3 linked regions of the Homo sapiens genome follow. Each later gene encodes a partner of the first gene's protein in a complex. Each region holds a gene or a part of one and is shown in the gene's direction. Other genes may lie near its edges. The genes, in order: VPS52, VPS54 and VPS51.

The links.
Region 2: VPS52 (region 1) and VPS54 share a complex: the UniProt entries of both Homo sapiens proteins name them as parts of the golgi-associated retrograde protein (GARP) complex.
Region 3: VPS52 (region 1) and VPS51 share a complex: the UniProt entries of both Homo sapiens proteins name them as parts of the endosome-associated retrograde protein (EARP) complex.

The regions. Positions count from the first base shown.
Region 1 is NC_000006.12:33,261,877-33,268,990, reverse strand, and holds part of VPS52 (vacuolar protein sorting-associated protein 52 homolog), read left to right. Parts: intron 1-341; coding exon 342-492; intron 493-782; coding exon 783-883; intron 884-993; coding exon 994-1,126; intron 1,127-1,251; coding exon 1,252-1,309; intron 1,310-1,669; coding exon 1,670-1,803; intron 1,804-1,917; coding exon of another isoform or gene 1,918-1,983; exon of another isoform or gene 1,984-2,259; intron 2,260-2,278; coding exon 2,279-2,434; intron 2,435-4,090; coding exon 4,091-4,209; intron 4,210-4,493; coding exon 4,494-4,617; intron 4,618-4,887; coding exon 4,888-4,983; intron 4,984-5,111; coding exon 5,112-5,219; intron 5,220-5,441; coding exon 5,442-5,507; intron 5,508-7,114. UniProt on the Homo sapiens protein: Acts as a component of the GARP complex that is involved in retrograde transport from early and late endosomes to the trans-Golgi network (TGN).
Region 2 is NC_000002.12:63,891,599-63,897,491, reverse strand, and holds the end of VPS54 (vacuolar protein sorting-associated protein 54), read left to right. Parts: intron 1-3,956; coding exon 3,957-4,062; 3' UTR 4,063-5,342; downstream 5,343-5,893. UniProt on the Homo sapiens protein: Acts as a component of the GARP complex that is involved in retrograde transport from early and late endosomes to the trans-Golgi network (TGN).
Region 3 is NC_000011.10:65,106,100-65,112,362, forward strand, and holds the end of VPS51 (vacuolar protein sorting-associated protein 51 homolog), read left to right. Parts: intron 1-1,481; coding exon 1,482-1,628; intron 1,629-1,703; coding exon 1,704-1,923; exon of another isoform or gene 1,924-1,925; intron 1,926-2,097; coding exon 2,098-2,815; intron 2,816-3,180; coding exon 3,181-3,396; intron 3,397-3,605; coding exon 3,606-3,824; intron 3,825-4,382; coding exon 4,383-4,504; intron 4,505-4,594; coding exon 4,595-4,682; intron 4,683-5,227; coding exon 5,228-5,488; 3' UTR 5,489-5,763; downstream 5,764-6,263. Other genes in the region: delta(14)-sterol reductase TM7SF2, read left to right, coding at 5,917-5,968. UniProt on the Homo sapiens protein: Acts as a component of the GARP complex that is involved in retrograde transport from early and late endosomes to the trans-Golgi network (TGN).

The DNA.
Region 1 (7,114 bases):
ATAATGTCCATAGCAGGTGGATGGGCTGGGGTGACCCACCCTATTTACCATATGGGTCTCCTGGCTCCAGGTTAAGTGCTTTTTAGAAATTAGTAGCCAGGTTAACCACCATTTCTTTAGGTATGCATTAGGCATCAAAGATTAAGATTAAGAATGATGTAAGATCAGGTGTATAGTGGGGAGGTCCAGGAATAGAAAACTTTGTACATGTGTCCTGACTATATGGTACAATGCAAGGTGGTAGAGATGACAGGGGCTGGAGGTAAGGAGTGTGGTCTGGGTCTGGTTTAGGGATGTCTGGGTCTCCCTTGTAACTCATCCCACCCCTCCCTGCTAACCAGGGCAATTCTGGAGGCTCCAGTGACAGAGCCCAGGTTCTTGGAGCAGCTACAGGAGCTGGATGCCAAGGCAGCCGCAGTCAGAGAGCAGGAAGCTAGAGGCACAGCAGCCTGCGCAGATGTCAGAGGCGTGCTCGATCGGCTCCGGGTCAAGGTGGGAAGTAGGGATGGATACCCTGGAGGCTACTGGAAGCAGCCTTCCCAAGATCTTCACTATGGATTTCCTTGGCAGAGCTCACTGTAGCCTGTCTCCAGGGACTTCACCCTGCCTTTTCTGGGCAGCCCCATTCTTGTCTCTCTGGGTTTCCCTGAAAATCTTGAGAAATACCAAAGAGATATTCACCACCCTTCTGCCTATGTTTACCATTTGTTGCTTCCCCCAGTTCCTCTCATACAGCAAAAGGGTTGCAGCTTCATGCCCTGTGTTTGGTTCCCCACATCTAGGCAGTGACGAAGATCCGAGAGTTTATCCTCCAGAAGATTTATTCCTTCAGGAAACCCATGACCAACTATCAGATCCCCCAGACGGCCCTGCTGAAGTACAGGTCACAACCCCAAGGAAGTGCATGGGATGGCCTTTGAGTTTTTGAGCGGCCTAGTGTGGGCATCTGGTTTCTTGGGAGACAGGTAGACTGACATGTTCCTGACCCCCTAGGTTCTTCTATCAGTTTCTGCTGGGCAATGAACGAGCAACAGCAAAGGAGATCAGGGATGAATATGTGGAGACGCTGAGCAAGATTTACCTGTCTTACTACCGCTCTTACCTGGGGCGGCTCATGAAGGTGCAGGTAAGGTCAGGAGGGAGAGGTATTCCTGGGCACATGGACTGGGAGGAGGGGACATCCCTGGGCAAGGAATATTTTATTGTGTTGTGGGAAGAGACGGTTATCAGTTCTCTTTTCTCTTTCCTTAGTATGAGGAAGTCGCTGAGAAAGATGATCTAATGGGTGTGGAAGATACAGCAAAGAAAGATATCCTAGTACTGGGGAACCCTCATGCCAGGCCTTGAGAGTGGGAGGACTTTCGACTCCAGCCACCAATGCACTGCTCCTTACCTTTTCCTATGGGACTGAAACCTTTTAGAATGTGATGAAAGCTATAGCCTCCCTCCCCAGAAAGATGCACACATTATTTTGACACATAGTTTTGCATATGATTGCAAGGGAGGGAGAGACACCCTGAAGCCCATTCACAGATGTCAGCACGTGGGGCCCTAGTACTGGGAAAGAGGGCTGGCTAGGCCACGTCTGCCTGTCTGGGGTCCCCACAGATAGTGAGTCTTTGGGCCCAGTTATGGTCTCATTGTTTTCCCTGACTCTGACCCATCTTACGATTCTTCTCAAAGCCATCGCTCCGCAGCAGGAACACCATTTTCACCCTAGGAACCCGCGGCTCTGTCATCTCCCCCACTGAACTTGAGGCCCCCATCCTGGTGCCTCACACAGCGCAGCGCGGAGAGCAGAGGGTATGAGGAGGAACAAGCTTCAGTCACGAAAGAGGCTCTGAGCACGGTGGGGAGGGAAGGCCAGACCTCAGGGCAGAGCTTCCCAACCTGCAGGCCCTGTCTTAATCCCCTTAGACTTGGGAGTGGCCTTCTCCAATCACTCCAGCCTGCTGTGATGTGAAAAGAGCTGGGAACCATTGACTTAAGGGCATGCAGAGGGGAGAGACTGGATGAGGGGAATGACAGTCAGAGGCAGGTGTTGAGGTGGATGCAGGAGTAGCAACAGCAGGTGGGTGTAGGCCCTTTTTGTACCCCTATGTTCCCCCACCTTTTCAGTGCCCATTCAGCTTGCTCTTAGACAGCCCGGACCTAGATAGATGCGAAGGGTCTGCCTAGCTCTTATTACTCAGGTTTACTGATTTTCCAGCCATATCCATGGGAAGTCAGTGTTGGGGTCCATCCCTTCTGTTTTTCTTCTTTACTCCTCCTCTCCCAGTATCCATTTGAGGCCCTCTTCCGCAGCCAGCACTACGCCCTCCTAGACAATTCCTGCCGCGAATACCTTTTCATCTGTGAATTTTTTGTTGTGTCTGGCCCAGCTGCACACGACCTGTTCCATGCTGTCATGGGCCGTACACTCAGCATGACCCTGGTAAGACTCCTGTTTCCTGTACCATTCAACACCTTTGTCCCCAGTCTTCATCAGCAGCATAGTGGGGTCATGACTCTGGTAGAACTGAAATCAGGATCGCCTCATTCTAAAATGTCTAAGCCTTGGCTGGGCGTGGTAGTGCACACCCATAATCCCAGCACTTTGGGAGTCCAAGGCAGTAGGATTGCCTGAGCTCAGGAGTTTGAGACCAGCCTGGGCAACAACCTCATCTCTACAAAAAATGAAAAATTAGCCGGGTGTGTGTTGATGTGTGCCTGTGGTCACAGCTACTAAAGATGCTGAGGTGGAAGGATTGCTTGAGCCCAGGAGGTCAAGGCTGCAGTGAGCCATGCACTCCAGAGTGAGACCTGTCTCAAAAAAAAAAAAAAAAAAAAATAGCCAGGTGCAGTGGCTTACGCCTGTAATCCCAGCACTTTGGGAGGCTGAGGCGGGAGGATCACAAGGTCAGGAGTTTGAGACCAGCCTGACCAACATGATGAAACCCTGTCTCTACTAACAGTACAAAAATTAGCCAGGTGTGCGCGGCCTGTAATCCCAGCTACTCGGGAGGCTGAGGCAGGAGGATTGCTTGAACCTGGGAGGAGGAGATTGCAGTGAGCCAAGATTGCGCCATTGCACTCCAGCCTGGGTGACAGAGCGAGACTCCATCTCAAAAAAAAAACTTGTTACTTAGACTTGTCACAGTGTTACTCCCCCATGAAATCCTCAGTGCGTAGGGTCCCTGAGACTACCCCTACTGCTGACCCACAATCAGGCAATAGCACGTGAAAACTGAGGGTCCCCCAAATCTTGGTGCTCAAACCCCTGACCCAAGCTCAGCCCTGAACTCTGCTGTGATAGGCTTGTGATCATAGATCCTGGTGTGGCCAGGTGCAGTGGCTTATGCCTGCAATCCCAGTACTTTGGGAGACCAAGGCAGGAAGGTTGCTTGAGGCCAGGAGTTCGAGACCAGCCTGGGCAATGCGGCAAGACCTTGTCTCTACAAAAAATTTAAAAATAAACTTAACCAGGCATGGTGGTACACACCCATGGTCCCAGTTGCTTGGCAGGCTGAGGTGGGAACATCACTTGAGCCCAGATGTTTGAGGCTGCAGTGAACTATGATTGTACCATTACAATCCAGCCTAGGTGACAAAACAACCTGTCTCTAAAGCCGAAAACACCGGGTGCAGTGGCTCACACCTGTAATCCCAGCACTTTAGGAGGCTGAGGTGGGCGGATCGCCTGAGGTCAGGAGTTCGAGACCAGCTTGACCAACATGATGAAACCCCATCTCTACTAAAATACAAAAATTAGTCGGGCGTGGTGGCAGGCGCCTATAATTCCAGCTACTCAGGAGGCTGAGGCAGGAGAATTGCTTGAACCTGGGAGGCAGGCGGAGGTTGCAGTGAGCCGAGATTGTGCCACTGCATTCCAGCTTGGGTGGCAAGAGTGAAACTCTATCTCAAAAAACAAAAAAAAAGCCAAAAACATAGATCCTGGACAGGAAAGCAGGGGGCAGTTCCATTTTACGTCTCTCCCTTCTGTCCTGTCCAGTGCATCATCCCCAAAGAAACAAATGCGTTTGTTCATAGTCACTGAGGACAACAAACTGACATTCTCTTTTAATCCTCTGTTTGTTCCCCAATCACACAGAAACACCTGGATTCTTATCTAGCTGACTGCTACGATGCCATTGCTGTTTTTCTCTGTATCCACATTGTTCTCCGGTTCCGTAACATTGCAGCAAAGAGGGATGTTCCTGCCCTGGACAGGTCACTGAATTCTGGTCCTTGATGCCCAACAGGCCACGAACTCTCTTGGTCTTGCATGACTCTGCCCTGACCTTAGACTCCTACTGACCTGGTATCATCAACCTTTATTCCCATTCATTTGCTCCGGAGGCAGTAGTGCTGCTTTTTGACTCACCTTTCTCCAACCACTGCCCCCCAACCCCCACAACTAGCTATTGACCATTAAACTGAATGATGCCCCACTCCCTCCCATCCCCCTCCAACATTCCTTGCTGGCTGACCTCTGATTCTGATTAAGCCCACAGGTACTGGGAACAGGTGCTTGCCTTGCTATGGCCACGGTTTGAACTGATCCTGGAGATGAATGTTCAGAGCGTCCGAAGCACTGACCCCCAGCGCCTAGGGGGGTTGGATACTCGGCCCCACTATGTGAGGGAGGGCAAGGGTAACAAAGGGTTCTTGAAAGGCAGGGCTCTAAGCATCATTGTGGGGGTTGGCCAAGGTCACAGTTGTGTCATGGGCCACGCTATGAGCAGGTGTTCTGGGAGGGTGGTGAAACTCATGGTGAGTGGTGCACTGTGGGTAGGAGGGACTGAAGGTAGAGTCACATCACATGGAGGTGGGTTGGCTAAGGAAGTTGGGAGGTTGTGTTGGTTGGGCCAGGAGGTGGGTGTGATTTTCCTTCCCACTCTCTCCTAGATCACACGCCGCTATGCAGAGTTCTCCTCCGCTCTTGTCAGTATCAACCAGACAATTCCTAATGAACGGACCATGCAATTGCTGGGACAGCTGCAGGTGAGGGTCGGACAGGAGACACTTCCCAGCAGCAGGGCTGCTTCCAGTGGGTGGAGTCTGAGGAGGAGCCAGATGGGGCCCAGATGACCTTGCTTTCTGGTGTCACCTCTTCCTCTCTGCCTTTTCAGGTGGAGGTGGAGAATTTTGTCCTCCGAGTGGCAGCTGAGTTCTCCTCAAGGAAGGAGCAGCTTGTGTTTCTGATCAACAACTATGACATGATGCTGGGTGTGCTGATGGTAATAGGTGCTCCTTCTCCTTGCCTTCCTACCCAGAAAATTCGGTTTCCCCCACTGCTGTTAGCTCTGTGAGGGCAGAGATGATGCCTGTCTTGTTCAGTGTTTTACTCTTGGAGTCTGGCACAGTGTCCAGCTTAGTACAATAAGTGTGGAATGAAGGGGACATCCTGAAGTGAAGGACTGCTTTCCCCAAACTAGACATTTCCCTTTGTCTTCCCTTAGGAGCGGGCTGCAGATGACAGCAAAGAGGTTGAGAGCTTCCAGCAGCTGCTCAATGCTCGGACACAGGTAGGGGTGTGGGGAAAAGGGAAGAGACAGCCTTCTGTGCTGTTTTCAGCTCTCTCTCTCTCTCTCTCTGTGTGTGTGTGTGTGTGTGTGTGTGTGTGTAGGGAGTGGCATAATGGATCTCAGGTATGCGGAATTACTGTAACTCTTGATTCACAACATACTGTCATTATTGGTCTATTTTATTTTATTTTGTCTTTGGTTTTTTTTTTTTTTTTTTTTTGAGGCAAAGTGTCACTCTGTCACCCAGGCTGGAGTGCAGTGGCATGAACATGGCTCACTGCAGCCTCAACAGCCTGGGCTTAAGTGATCCTTCTACCTTAGCCCCCTGGGTAGCTGGGACCACAGGTGCGAGCCACCATGCCTAGCTAATTTTTTATTTTTAGAATGAATTTTATTTTTTTCTTTATCTATCCTCTCAAGCATTTATCCTTTGTGTTATAAACAATCCGATTACACTAAGTTATTTTAAAATGTACAATTAAGTTATAATTGACTATAGTCACCCTGTTGTGCTGTCAAATAGTAGGTCTTATTTATTCTTCCTATTTTTGTTTGTACCCATTAATCATCCCCACCTTCTCCCCAGCCTTCCACTAGCCTTCCCAGCCTCTGGTAGCCATCCTTCTACTCTCTTCGTACATGAGTACATGAGTTCAATTGTTTTGATTTTTAGATTCCACGAATCAGTGAGAACACATGACGTTTGTCTTTCTGTGCCTGGCTTATTTCACTTAATATAATAATTTCCAATTCTATGCATGTTGTTGCAAATGACTGAGTCTCATTCTTTTTTATGGCTGAGTAGTACTCCATTGTGTATATATCCCACATTTTCTTTACCCATTCATCTGTTGATGGACACTTAGGTTGCTTCCAAATCTTAGCTATTGTGAACAATACTGCAACAAACATGGGAGTGCAAATATCTCTTCAATGTACTGATTTCCTTTCTTTTGGGTATATACCCAGCAGTGGGATTGCTGAATCATATGGTAGCTCTACTTTTAGTTTTTTGAGCAACCTTCAAACTGTTCTCCAAAGTGTTTGTACTAATCTACATTCCCACCAACAGTGTATAAGGGTTCCCTTTTCTCCACATCCTTGCCAGCATTGCTATTGCCTGTCTTTTGGATAAAAGCCATTCTGACTGGAGTGAGATGAGATCTCATTGTAGTTTTGATTTGTATTTCTCTGATAATAGTGATGGTGAGCCCCTTTTCATATATGTCTGTTTGCCATTTGTATTCTTTTGAAAAATATCTATTCAAATCTTTTGCCCATTTTTTAATAGGATTATTAGACTGTCATGTAGAGTTGTTTGAGCCCCTTATATATTCTGGTTATTAATCCCTTGGCAGATGGGATGTGCAAATATTCTTTGTCTCTTCACTTTATTGTTTCTTTAGCTGTGCAGAAGCTTTTTTTTTTTTTTTTTTTTTTTTTGAGATGGAGTTTTGTTCTTGTTGTCCAGGCTGGAGTGCGATGGTGCGATCTCAGCTCACCGCAACCTCCGCCTCCCAGGTTCAAGCAATTTTCCTGCCTCAGCCTCCTGAGTAGCTGTGATTACAGGCATGTGCCACCATGCCTGGCTAATTTTGTATTTTTAG
Region 2 (5,893 bases), on another chromosome or scaffold:
GTTTTTTAACGTTTTCACCATATACTCCCATATCGAATTGTTTTAATGATCAGTTTTGATTATTTGTGCCATCCTTTTCTGCTGTAATCACACTGAAGACCAACGTTGTAAAATCAGCAAGCTTTTGTGTTTTTTTTTTCCCCTGTGGAAATATCTGTTTCTATCTAACTATCTAAAAGGGGTTTATACATGGACAATTGCTTACCTGACGTTATGTATCTGTTTTGAGGCAGTGTGAATTAGTAGCACTTCCTTAGTTACCCAATAGCTTTCCCTATTCCAAACAGGATTCAGAAGTCCTACTGTGTGACCATGTGAATGTCACTTAACCTGTGTGCCACATTTATAAAATAACAAGGATGAAATCTGTCTTAATTCTTTCACAGGGTTATGAAAAATAATATATGTGTGTATATGTATATATTTTATTGTAAGCTATTGAAAGATTGTATATATTACTGTAAAATAGCATAGTACATAGAAAGCATAGGGTAGGACTTAGAATCTGAAAACTTGGGTTAAGTTCTAGTTCTGTCACTTACTAGCTGTTGTAACTTTGGGCAAATCACTTACTCCCCCTCAGCTTAGGTTTTTTAGATTTGAAAATAGGGATGATGATAAAAGTTTCCTTAATAGGATTTTTTGAAGAGTTATGTAGATAAAGATATGGGGAAGAGATTTTATAAAATTTAAAGCACTGATCATTTAGTTACGTATTAATATCAATTCTTTAGTGTTCTAGGGTTTTTAGGAATAAAATTTTATTTCCTGTTAAAGGAATTTCAGGCTCAAATTTCAAACTTATAAGAACAAATGGAAAATGAAAAAAATGTATGTTGGGGTCAGAAGTTGGCCCTGCCATTTAAGAAGAAGTACAGTGAATCAATTTTGCAAAGAGCTATGTGAAAGCTTCATTCTGTTGAATCTGTTAGGCTGAATTTAAGAGTTTTATGCAAGAATGATAGTCTTATTATCTGATTCTTCTTTTTCTTTTTAAAGAATTATTTGTTTTCAAAAATTTCAAAGCCATGGAACACTTAAAGGACAATAATGAACACTGAATAGCTTTTACCTAGATTTATCAACTGTTAAAATTTTGCCACATACTCTCTGCCACTTTTGCTCCTTCTCCCTCCCACCCCCATACCTCCCTTTTGACAAACAACCAAAAAAGTAGGCTGCAGTCATAAAATTTAACCCTTAAATACTTTGGCATGTGTCTCTAAAAACAAGGACATTTTTATACAACCGTAATACCTGAACCCCACCTAAGAAAATCAACATTAATAGCGTTATACCAACATAGAGTCAGATATTTTCAGCAAGAACATCACATGTGGTGACGCTGTGTATATCTCTCACTTGATGTCAGATGATACAAATGGTACATACATAAGAGACCTGCTCCTGAAAAGATAATAGCATATTAGAAACTTAGGAGACTCTTGGTAGAGATGTATACTGGGTACCTTAAAGAGGCTGTTCAAAAAAAGCTAATAATATTTTTAAGGCCTAACCCTGCTCATACCCTTTTACTTTTATTCCCATAACTAAATCTGGGTTGGTTAGTTGGGTTTTTGTAGACCAGTAGTTCTGAAGCACCCAAGCTAACTCGTTAGCTGTTACTTTTCTTTCTTAATATAGCTATTTGGAAGTCAGTCTGACCTTAGAGAATCCTCACTGTCACATGCTAACAGAAACTCATTCTTTATAAGTCAATTCATGTCTTTGAAATATCCCTGAAGATTAACCTCTACCCTGTAGCCAAGGACATAAACTACCTGCTTAAAAGTTTTTGTTTCTGAAATTGCTCTAAAAATGTAGCTTTTGACTTTTTTTGAGGTGAAATTCACATAACATAAAATTAACTATTTTAAAGTGAACAATTCAGTGGCACTTAGTGTCTTCACAGTGATGCGTAACCGCCACCTCTATCTAGTTCCAAACATTTTCACTACTCCAAAAGAAAATCCTGTACCCATTAGGCAGCTGCTTCCTATTTCTCCCTCTCCCCAGCCCTGTACTTTGATTTTATTTTGAGATGGAGTATCACTCTGTCACACAGGCTGGAGCGCAGTGGCGTGATCTCAGCTCACTGCAACCTCCACCTCCCAGGTTCAAGCAATTCTCCTGCCTCAGCCTCCCAAGTAGCTGGGATTACAGGCACGTGCCACCACGCCTGGCTACTTTTTGTATTTTTAGTAGAGACGGTTTTACCATGTTGGCCAGGCTGGTCTTAAACTCCTGACCTCAGGTGATCTGCCTGCCTCGGCCTCCCAAAGTGCTGGGATTATAGGTATGAGCCACTGCACCCGGCCCAGCTCTGTACTTTTTAATGTGATTTTTTTTCCTCTAAGATATTTTAAAAATAGACACATACAGAGAATAATAAATTATTTATATTTCTACTACCCAGAATTGATCAACATTTGTCATTTTCTCTTGAAAAAAATATTTATTGTATTTTTAAAATGGTATTCAAAAAATTGCATTCCAGATGAAGCTAAGTACACCTTTACACCCCATCTGCAGTCCGATTCCCTTTTTCTCCCAGCCTTTAGGTAACATTTCCAGTGAATTTAGTCTACATTCTTTTAGTCTTATTTATTGTACCTAGATTTATGAAAAATATGTAGTGCTGTTTTGTAAATTTACTTATATGGTATATTGCATATATGCAGCTTGCTTTCTACTAGGCATTTTTACTGATTTATCTATGTTGATATATGTTTAGTAGTCTGTTTTTGACTGCTGTACAGTATTCCATCAAACAACCTTTTTTTTTTTTTTGGAGACAGGGTCTCATGGTCACACAGGCTGGAGGGCAGTGGTGTGATCATGGCTCACTGCAGCCTCAACCTCCGTGGCTCAAGCAATCCTCCCACTGCAGACTCCCCAATAACTGCGACTACAGGTGTGTGGCACCACACCCAGCTAATTTTTTTAATTTTTTGTAGAGACGAGGTCTCACTATGTTGCCCAGGCTGGTCTTAAACTCCTGAGCTCAGGTGATCCTCCTGCCTCAGCCTCCCCAAGTGCTGGGATTACAGGTGTGAGCCACTGCTCCTGGCCATGAATCAGCCATAGATAAATTAGACATTTCCCCTAGTGATAAATTGCTAAGTCATTACTTTTTTCCATTATAACCATGCCATACTGAAGATCTTTATACATGTCTAATGGTGTGACCATTTCTTCAGGGCATATACCTATAAGTGAATTGGAGCTAATACACTTTTCATATTGTTAGGTATTGACAGTGGCTGTACCAACTCCCACATTAGTGGAGTAGTTTGTGAGAATTTGTTTCCCACATCTTTTCAACATTTGCTGTTAGATTTCCTAATTGTTGCTAGTCTGATGGGGGATAGTAGTACCTTGTTTTGATTTGCATTTTCCTGACGTTTACCATTTTTTCAGTTTATTGGTTATTCAGGTGTTTTCATCTGTGACTTCTTATGTTCTTTCCTATTTTTCTCTTGGGTTTTTAAAGAAATATCCAGTATCGCTTATATACATGAATACTAGTCTGTATTTAACGCCTTAGATGACACTTAGAAACCTAGCCTGCTTTTCCCTTGAGTTTACTATTTTAGTCAGCACTCCCATACTCTAGTGCTAACCAATCAAAAACATTTTAGTTTAGCCTGTTATTTTCTCTGTATATTAATTCATGCTGTTTCAAGATAAATCTGATTTTCTTGGGCTGAATTTATCATGAAACTGACTCTAACAGCCATTGGTTTATTCATTTTCCAAATATTTATTATTGAAGTACAGCATTAAATGGCCTACTTATTCATAGCAGGAATCCTGCTAAGTAAAGTATTTGGACACTTGGGCACTAAGAAATCTGAATTTTAGATAATAGGACTCTGACTCGGTGAGCACTGTTACTTTAATTATCTGAATAGAAAGTTTGAGATTTAAAAAATAATTTTCTCTCCATTATTTAGGTTGGTCACAGCAGATGTAGCTTTTTACACTGGAAATCTTCAAGCCTTAAAAGGCCTTAAAGATTTGGACCTAAATATGGCCGAAATTTGGGAGCAGAAGAGGTGATGTCATCCTGGAAAACTGGGTAGTTCATCTGACCATGGGATGTGTTTGTTATGAAGAAAATCTGGATGCCTGTGATTCGAGAATTGAACCTGAAACCCAAAGTGAACTGGGGTGGGGGAAGGGAAAAAGGAAAGTATCAAGTGTTGGGAAACTGGATTCAGTGGGATCTACAAGGAATGTCATTTTTGTGCATCCTACAGTGAGGAGTAACTGATCAGGTGTCTATAACATTTTTCATTCTCTCTGGAAACAGACTCAGGTTTCTTTGGACCAAATCCAAAAGAACACATAGCTGTAACACAGCTGTAGTTGACTAGAATGCTCTGTATACTTTATATTAAAAAATGCTTTGCATTTCTTCCAGTGCAATGAAATTCATATGGTGTCCCACCTTATTTAATGATGGTACAATTTAAAATCTTAGTCAACTTCTGTAGAAAGTTTTCTCTATGAAAGTAAAGCTGTTTGAAAAATTATTATTTTTTTACAGATCTTTCTATAAAAAATAAACATCTTTTGATTGCTTGGATTTAGGAATTCAATTTTTGTTTCAGTGACCAATGTCAAGTTGCAGGCTTTGTGTGTTGCATATTTAATATTTCTACTACCACCGTATGTCAACTGGGTAAAGCCTTCCAGAGCTCTCTAAATACCTGAAAGACTTAAGCCTTTTTTTAAGTAATTAATACTTAAAAAAAAAGATCCTGGCATCTATTTATGCAACTAAATACTTTTCAGAAATGGTATATAAAAGGCTACAGTTTAATATCTGTATTTTTATAAAAGTATGATGAAGGGTTTGGGGTGTTTTTATTTGTAGCAGAGGTAAGAATATGTATTCATATAATCTGCCTACTTTTGAGTTCTCATATTAACATTTAGATAACATATGAAGTATGGCCCCCTTGGATCCTTGTTTTTAAGTTACTTTCGATGTGTATACGAACAAAGACCAGGGAGAAACAGAACTTTTAAAACTATAGGCTGCTGTGTTGGGGCCAGAAATAAGGTGACAAGTAAAGACTTTTATAATACCTACCTTCAAAATTAGAATCAGCAGCACTGTACAAATAAAGTGCCTGTGCTTCACCTCACACCAAGAATCTTGCCTAACCCTGTCAGAGTGCCTAATATCCTGTGGTGATTATGTATAATGAAACAGTCTTATTTTGTGCTCTTTGGTTTCTTAAAAGGAAAGCTTGTTTTCTTTCCTTTATCATTACAGAGGTATGTCTTTGGTTCTTAAACTATCTGTCTAAAATAAAGCTGTAAAAAATTAACAGACTTTAAAAGGCAACTTTTTTTTAAGTGGTATATTGTGAACTTTAAACAAGCAGCCTACTCAAAACAAGTATGGATGAATTTAAAGAAAAGGCATAAATTGAACTACCAGCAGACCTGAATGGAAAGATTATTAATGATCATTTTTTCAGTGATAATAAACAAGCTTCAGGAAATGAAGCTTCAGGGAAAGGGAACTTTTTATGAAGCTATACCCCCTACCTCACTATAGAAGAGTACAAGGATGTGAAGAAATGCCTTCCCTTTGCCCACCCCCGTCAGCTGGGAAAATAAATGCCACTTTGTTTCAATAAATGGAGAGTTTGTGGAAAGCATGGCAGGCATCCCAGTTTTAGAACTAGATGAAAGGTAGGTACTAAAGAAAATACCTTCAGTTTAATTCCTGTGGAAATAATGGTATGATTAAGATTCTTAGAAATGCCAAAAACTGGACTCATTAAGTACACACTGGCTAGGTAACTAGCCAGTGTGTACTTAAAGGGCAAATCTTCCAACTAATATAGTAACTGTCTAACAACAATAAACCAGT
Region 3 (6,263 bases), on another chromosome or scaffold:
TATGAACATTGTTGGTATGTTCAATGGAATTAGGGAAATTAGTTGGGAAATGTTGGCAGTTGTTGGACAAGAGATGATAGTGGCTTACAAAGAAAATGTTGCAGGTAGACCTTCCATGACTTGGTAATGGATTGATTACTAGGTATATTAATCCAGGTTCATACTGCTGTAAAGAACTGCCCGAGACTAGGTAACTTATAAAGGAAAGAGGTTTAATTGACTCACAGTTCACAGCATGGCTGGGGAGGCCTCAGGAAACTTACAATCATGGCAGAAGGTGAAAGAGAAGCAAGGCATCTTCTTCACAAGGCAGCAGGAAGGAGAAGTGTTAAGCGAAGCAGGGAGAGCCCCTTATAAAACCATCAGACCTCGTCGGGTGCGGTGGCTCATGCCTGTAATCCCAGCACTTTGGGAGGCCAAGGTGGGCGGATCATGAGGTCAGGAGATCAAGACCATCCTGGCTAACATGGTGAAACTCCATCTCTACTAAAAATACAAAAAATTAGCTGGGTGTGGTGGCAGGCACCTGTAGTCCCAGCTACTTGGGAGGCTGAGGCAGGAGAATGGTGTGAACCTGGGAATTGGAGTTTGCAGTGAGCAGAGGTCGTGCCACTGCACTCCAGTCTGGGCGACAGAGCGAGACTCAGTCTCAAAAAAAAAAAAAAAGAATAGGTGGAATTGAATTGAGGCCGTCAGTGAACAGTCAGGAACATTGGAAGGCTCATCCATGTGGATGTGCACAAGGAGGTGACAGGAGGAGGAGAAGAGGCAGTGATGGGGAACTGAGAGGAGTGTCAGAGGACAGTAGAGACAGCAAAGAGGAGGGTTGTGGCTTGATGGCATGGTCTTCCTAGAAGCCGGGGTTTTGAAGAGAGGAGATCTAGGCATGATTTAGAAGCATGAAGGGACCAGGCTCCCAGGCACCTGGTGTGTGAAAGGAAAAACAGCCTCCCTAGGCAGGATTCTATCAGGACCAAAGGGAAAGGGCCCTTCAGAGAAGACAGCCCATGTTCCGGAAAGCATGTGAAAGGCTTTGGGAGGTCTGGAAAGGAGATGAGGGTCAACAAGAATGTATTGCCTCATCCAGGCAGTGCGCTGGACACGCAGATGCGCTTGGGAGCCAGCGGTCCCTGCCTTGGCTGCTTGTGGTCTGATGGAGCAGTTGAGGCACAGTGGTGGCAGCTGGCTAAGCACCTGCGGCCTGCTTCGGATCTGGACTAATTCTGAGGGCCGGCTCTCCTGGGCACCAGGGTTAGGGGGTTACGGGGAGTATGTGAGTAACGCCTGCTTTGGGAACATAAACCCCCTCCCCCGCCCCCATGTGCGCTGTGACCCACGCCCTCGCAGTCCTTTCTCTGGAATCATCCATGCGCCCCTGGAGCAAGCTGGGGCGTCTGTGAAGGGGTGGGTGAGAAGGAGCTGAGGTTGCGCCCGCCCTGCAGTCACCTGCTCTCCCCTTTTCCCCGCCCCTGCCCTCCTAGACACCATCCGGAAGATGAAGAACGATTTCCGGAAGATGGAGGATGAGATGGACCGGCTGGCCACCAACATGGCAGTGATCACCGACTTCAGCGCTCGCATCAGCGCCACGCTGCAGGACCGCCACGAGCGCATCACCAAGCTGGCAGGTGGGCGCTGCCGGGCAGGGCCTGCAGTGGGCCTTTCCTGGGGCTCTGGGGCTAACGTCACCCTCCGTCCCCCAGGGGTCCACGCGCTGCTGCGGAAGCTGCAGTTCCTCTTTGAGCTGCCCTCGCGCCTCACCAAGTGCGTGGAACTGGGCGCCTATGGGCAGGCGGTGCGCTACCAGGGCCGCGCGCAGGCCGTGCTGCAGCAGTACCAACACCTGCCCTCGTTCCGCGCCATCCAGGACGACTGCCAGGTCATCACGGCCCGCCTGGCCCAGCAGCTGCGGCAGCGCTTTAGGTGTGGCCCCTCTGCCCTGACCCCAGCGCTCCCGCCAGCCCCGAGCCCCATCTGTGCCCGGCTCCTGGGCCCTCCTGGAGCTGTCCCCCTGCCCTGTGTGTGCTTTGCTTTCCTGCTCCTGCCCCATCCACCGGCAGCCCCGGCCCTGCCCTTCACTACCTCTCCCTCGTGCAGGGAGGGCGGCTCAGGCGCCCCGGAGCAGGCAGAGTGCGTGGAGCTGCTGCTGGCCCTGGGCGAGCCTGCGGAGGAGCTGTGCGAGGAGTTCCTGGCGCACGCCCGCGGCCGGCTGGAGAAGGAGCTGAGAAACCTGGAGGCCGAGCTGGGGCCCTCACCTCCGGCTCCCGACGTGTTAGAGTTCACCGACCATGGAGGCAGTGGCTTCGTGGGCGGCCTCTGCCAGGTGGCGGCGGCCTACCAGGAGCTGTTTGCGGCCCAGGGCCCAGCAGGTGCCGAGAAGCTGGCGGCCTTCGCCCGGCAGCTGGGCAGCCGCTATTTTGCGCTGGTGGAGCGGCGGCTGGCGCAGGAGCAGGGTGGTGGTGACAACTCACTGCTGGTGCGGGCGCTGGACCGCTTCCACCGGCGCTTGCGGGCTCCCGGGGCCCTGCTGGCCGCTGCCGGGCTCGCAGACGCTGCCACGGAGATCGTGGAACGAGTGGCCCGCGAGCGCCTGGGCCACCACCTGCAGGGTCTCCGGGCGGCCTTCCTGGGCTGCCTGACAGACGTCCGCCAGGCGCTGGCAGCACCTCGCGTGGCTGGGAAGGAGGGCCCTGGCCTGGCCGAGTTGCTGGCCAATGTGGCCAGCTCCATCCTGAGCCACATTAAGGCCTCTCTGGCAGCAGTGCACCTTTTCACCGCCAAAGAGGTGTCCTTCTCCAACAAGCCCTACTTCCGGGTACGCCTCCTCTTGGGTGTTCCTTGTTCAACCTGCTGGTTGACCCTCCAAAACCTTTTATGCCAGTGCTTGGGAAACTGGGGAAACCAGGCACTCTGGGTGTGGTTTCAGGTTCTTATGCACGGTCTGGGGGGTGGGGAAGGCTCAGGGCATCTGCAGCTGGGCTGAGAAGCAGGGCATGGTGGGGTCCCCAGTGTTGGCTTTCTCTGCCCCCACTCAGGGAAGCTGCTCCGGGGTACTTAGAATGTAGGATGATGCTGTCCCTTGCAGAGGGGGCTGGGGCACTTAGAGCCCCAGCAGAGGGTCATTAACAGCCTTACCTGGAAGAGGGGACCTGCTGTGGACCTGGGCACCTTCTCTTGCAGGGTGAGTTCTGCAGTCAGGGTGTCCGTGAGGGCCTCATCGTGGGCTTCGTCCACTCTATGTGCCAGACGGCTCAGAGCTTCTGCGACAGCCCTGGGGAGAAGGGGGGTGCCACACCACCTGCCCTGCTCCTGCTGCTCTCCCGCCTCTGCCTGGACTACGAGACGGCCACCATCTCCTACATCCTCACTCTCACTGATGAACAGTTTCTGGTGCAGGTGAAGCACTAGCTCCTAGCCGGGCAGGGAATGGTGTTGCTGGGAATGCAGATGGCTGGACAGTGCCCTCATGGCCAGACCCCAGACCAGCTGCCTGTGTGTACCCCAGCCTCCACCTTGCCCAATCTGTGCCCAGCTCCTGGTTGGCAGTGGCCCCTGAGCTGCCCCCACCATACCCACTCCCTCTGTCCTCTGCCTCCTTGGCTCAGGATCAGTTCCCAGTGACGCCCGTGAGCACGCTGTGTGCAGAGGCCAGGGAAACGGCGCGGCGGCTGCTGACCCACTACGTGAAGGTGCAGGGCCTGGTCATATCACAGATGCTGCGCAAGAGCGTGGAGACTCGCGACTGGCTCAGCACTCTGGAGCCCCGGAATGTGCGGGCCGTCATGAAGCGGGTGGTGGAGGATACCACCGCCATCGACGTGCAGGTGCTGCCCAGGCTGGCCGGGGTAGCCCTGACGCAGGCTGGGGGTACTGTCCCTTCAAGAGGGGCTGGGGCAGCAGAGGATCACTGGCAGTCCCTGCCTGGAGGAGGGGACATGTGTATCTGGGCTTCTCACGGGGCCAGTTCTGTAGCCAGGGCGTCCGTGAGGGAACCCCAGGGGAACAAGTCTCCAAGGATGAAGACCAAACGGGCTGGGGAGTGCCTATGTCCACGGTCTTGTTCCTTCTCAGCCCAGGATTATGACATCTTCGCCCCTATTTTACCTGTGGAGAAGCAGAGGCTCAGGGTTACCCAGGAAGTCAGGGCAGGGTTGGTGCTGGTGCTGAAGATTAGACCTCAGACCAACTCTTGTATCCTGCCTTTGCCCCACTCCACTGGTTCTATAAATAGCGACCATGTACCTACTAAATAGCGGGCCCCGCGGTGATTACCCTGTGATCCTTGTGATGCTTGAGTAGCTGACTTAGGGCATCCTCAGCACCGATGGGCTGGTGGTTTCCCCTGACTCGGGCCTCCTTGCAGTACCTCTTTTTACCACCAGGTGGGGCTCCTGTACGAAGAGGGTGTTCGCAAGGCCCAGAGCAGCGACTCCAGCAAGAGGACTTTCTCCGTGTACAGCAGCTCTCGGCAGCAGGGCCGCTACGCCCCCAGCTATACCCCCAGGTCTGGCTGGTCAGGGGAGCCCCAGGGGGAAGGGACAAAAGAGGGCGAGGGTGCAGGGCGGGCTCTGATTCCTTGTCTTCCCCAATCCAGTGCCCCGATGGACACCAACCTCTTGAGCAATATCCAGAAGCTATTCTCTGAACGTATTGATGTGTTCAGCCCTGTGGAGTTCAACAAGGTCCGACTTCCAACGTGACTCAGACTTCCAGGGATCCCGGGGAGGGTTGGCTGGAGCAGCCCCACACCTGCCCAAGGAGCCCCAGGACTCTGTGACCAACTGGGGGTGACCCTGACCCTCCAGTCTCTGTCTCTAGGGCTGTTTTTAGGTAGTACAGAGTGCCCTGCCTCCAAATCCCACAGCCCTTGTCCCAGTCTTGGTGTATGCCCAGCCTGAGTCTGGGTGCTGACCTGGGATTACTGTTTGCCCTTGTCCTTATCCCCACAGTAGTCTTGGGTCCTCCCCAGGGTTTTCTGTTCACCCATGGTCCCTGCCCCGCCTCACTCCAAGCTCAGGGATGCCTCTGATTGCTGGGCCCTACCTGTCCCCTGCCCTCCAGATGACGGCGCTAATATTGTATCCCTCCCTTCTTATCTGGCCCCGGAGACTTTCTGCCTCATCCCAGCTACTTCCATCGTATGTCTCCCGGGCCCCTGCTTGGAACTTGGGTGTCCCCCACACACACCTGCAGTCCCCAAGCTGCATCCCTGTGTCCCTGCCTGCAGGTGTCGGTGCTGACCGGCATCATCAAGATCAGCCTGAAGACGCTGCTGGAGTGTGTGCGGCTGCGCACCTTTGGGCGCTTCGGGCTGCAGCAGGTGCAAGTGGACTGCCACTTTCTGCAGCTCTACCTGTGGCGTTTTGTGGCCGACGAAGAACTCGTGCACTTGCTGCTGGACGAAGTGGTGGCCTCTGCTGCCCTGCGCTGCCCAGACCCTGTGCCCATGGAGCCCAGTGTGGTTGAGGTCATCTGCGAGCGCGGCTAGGCGCAGCCGCTGCCATGCACCGGTCTGTCCCTGCACCCCATGGCACCCAGGATCTGGTCTCGGTGGTCCTTCCCCGCAGGCAGGTGTCAGGACCGGCCTAATAAACATGTGTGGCCTCCTCCTCTCGCTTGCTGGGCGGGCCTTTCCGGGGGCGGGGTTTTGAAGCTGAGGCTTCTGAGGCGCCCGCGTCGGGTCCGCCCCCGAGCGCCGATTGGCTGGTGTGCTGGGCCCAGCATGGGCAGGGGGCGGTTCCACTTAAAAACCCTGGGACGAGAGCGGTCCTTGTCTGCGTTCCGTGTCCAGGCAGGTGCAGGCGCCGCGGGGCCGGATCCTCCGCGCGGCCGAGTCCATCTCCTGGGAAATGGGGCGGACAGTGTTTCCTTGACTGACTATTGTGAGCGCCCTCTCTCTCCGGCGGAGCGGAGACCATGGCCCCCACTCAGGGCCCCCGGGCCCCGCTGGAATTCGGAGGGCCCCTGGGTAATGGGGCAGAGAGATGGGACCTGGGGCAAAGGCTAAGCGAAGGAGAGCTGGAGCGGGTGAACTAAGAGCGGGGGCGAGATCTGAGGATGGAAGGCTTTGGGGGTGTCGGAGGCAGAGGGACCCGGGGGTTTGCAGCGAAGGGTGTCTGGAGAGGGAGAGCTGAGGAGGGGCCGGTTCTGGGGGCTGCAGAACGGGGATTTATGGTGTCGACTGGGAGCAGGAGGAGGGTCTTCGAGGGGCCTGGGGGCGGGGGACTAAGATGGACGCCTGGGAAGGGAACTGGGAGGCAGCG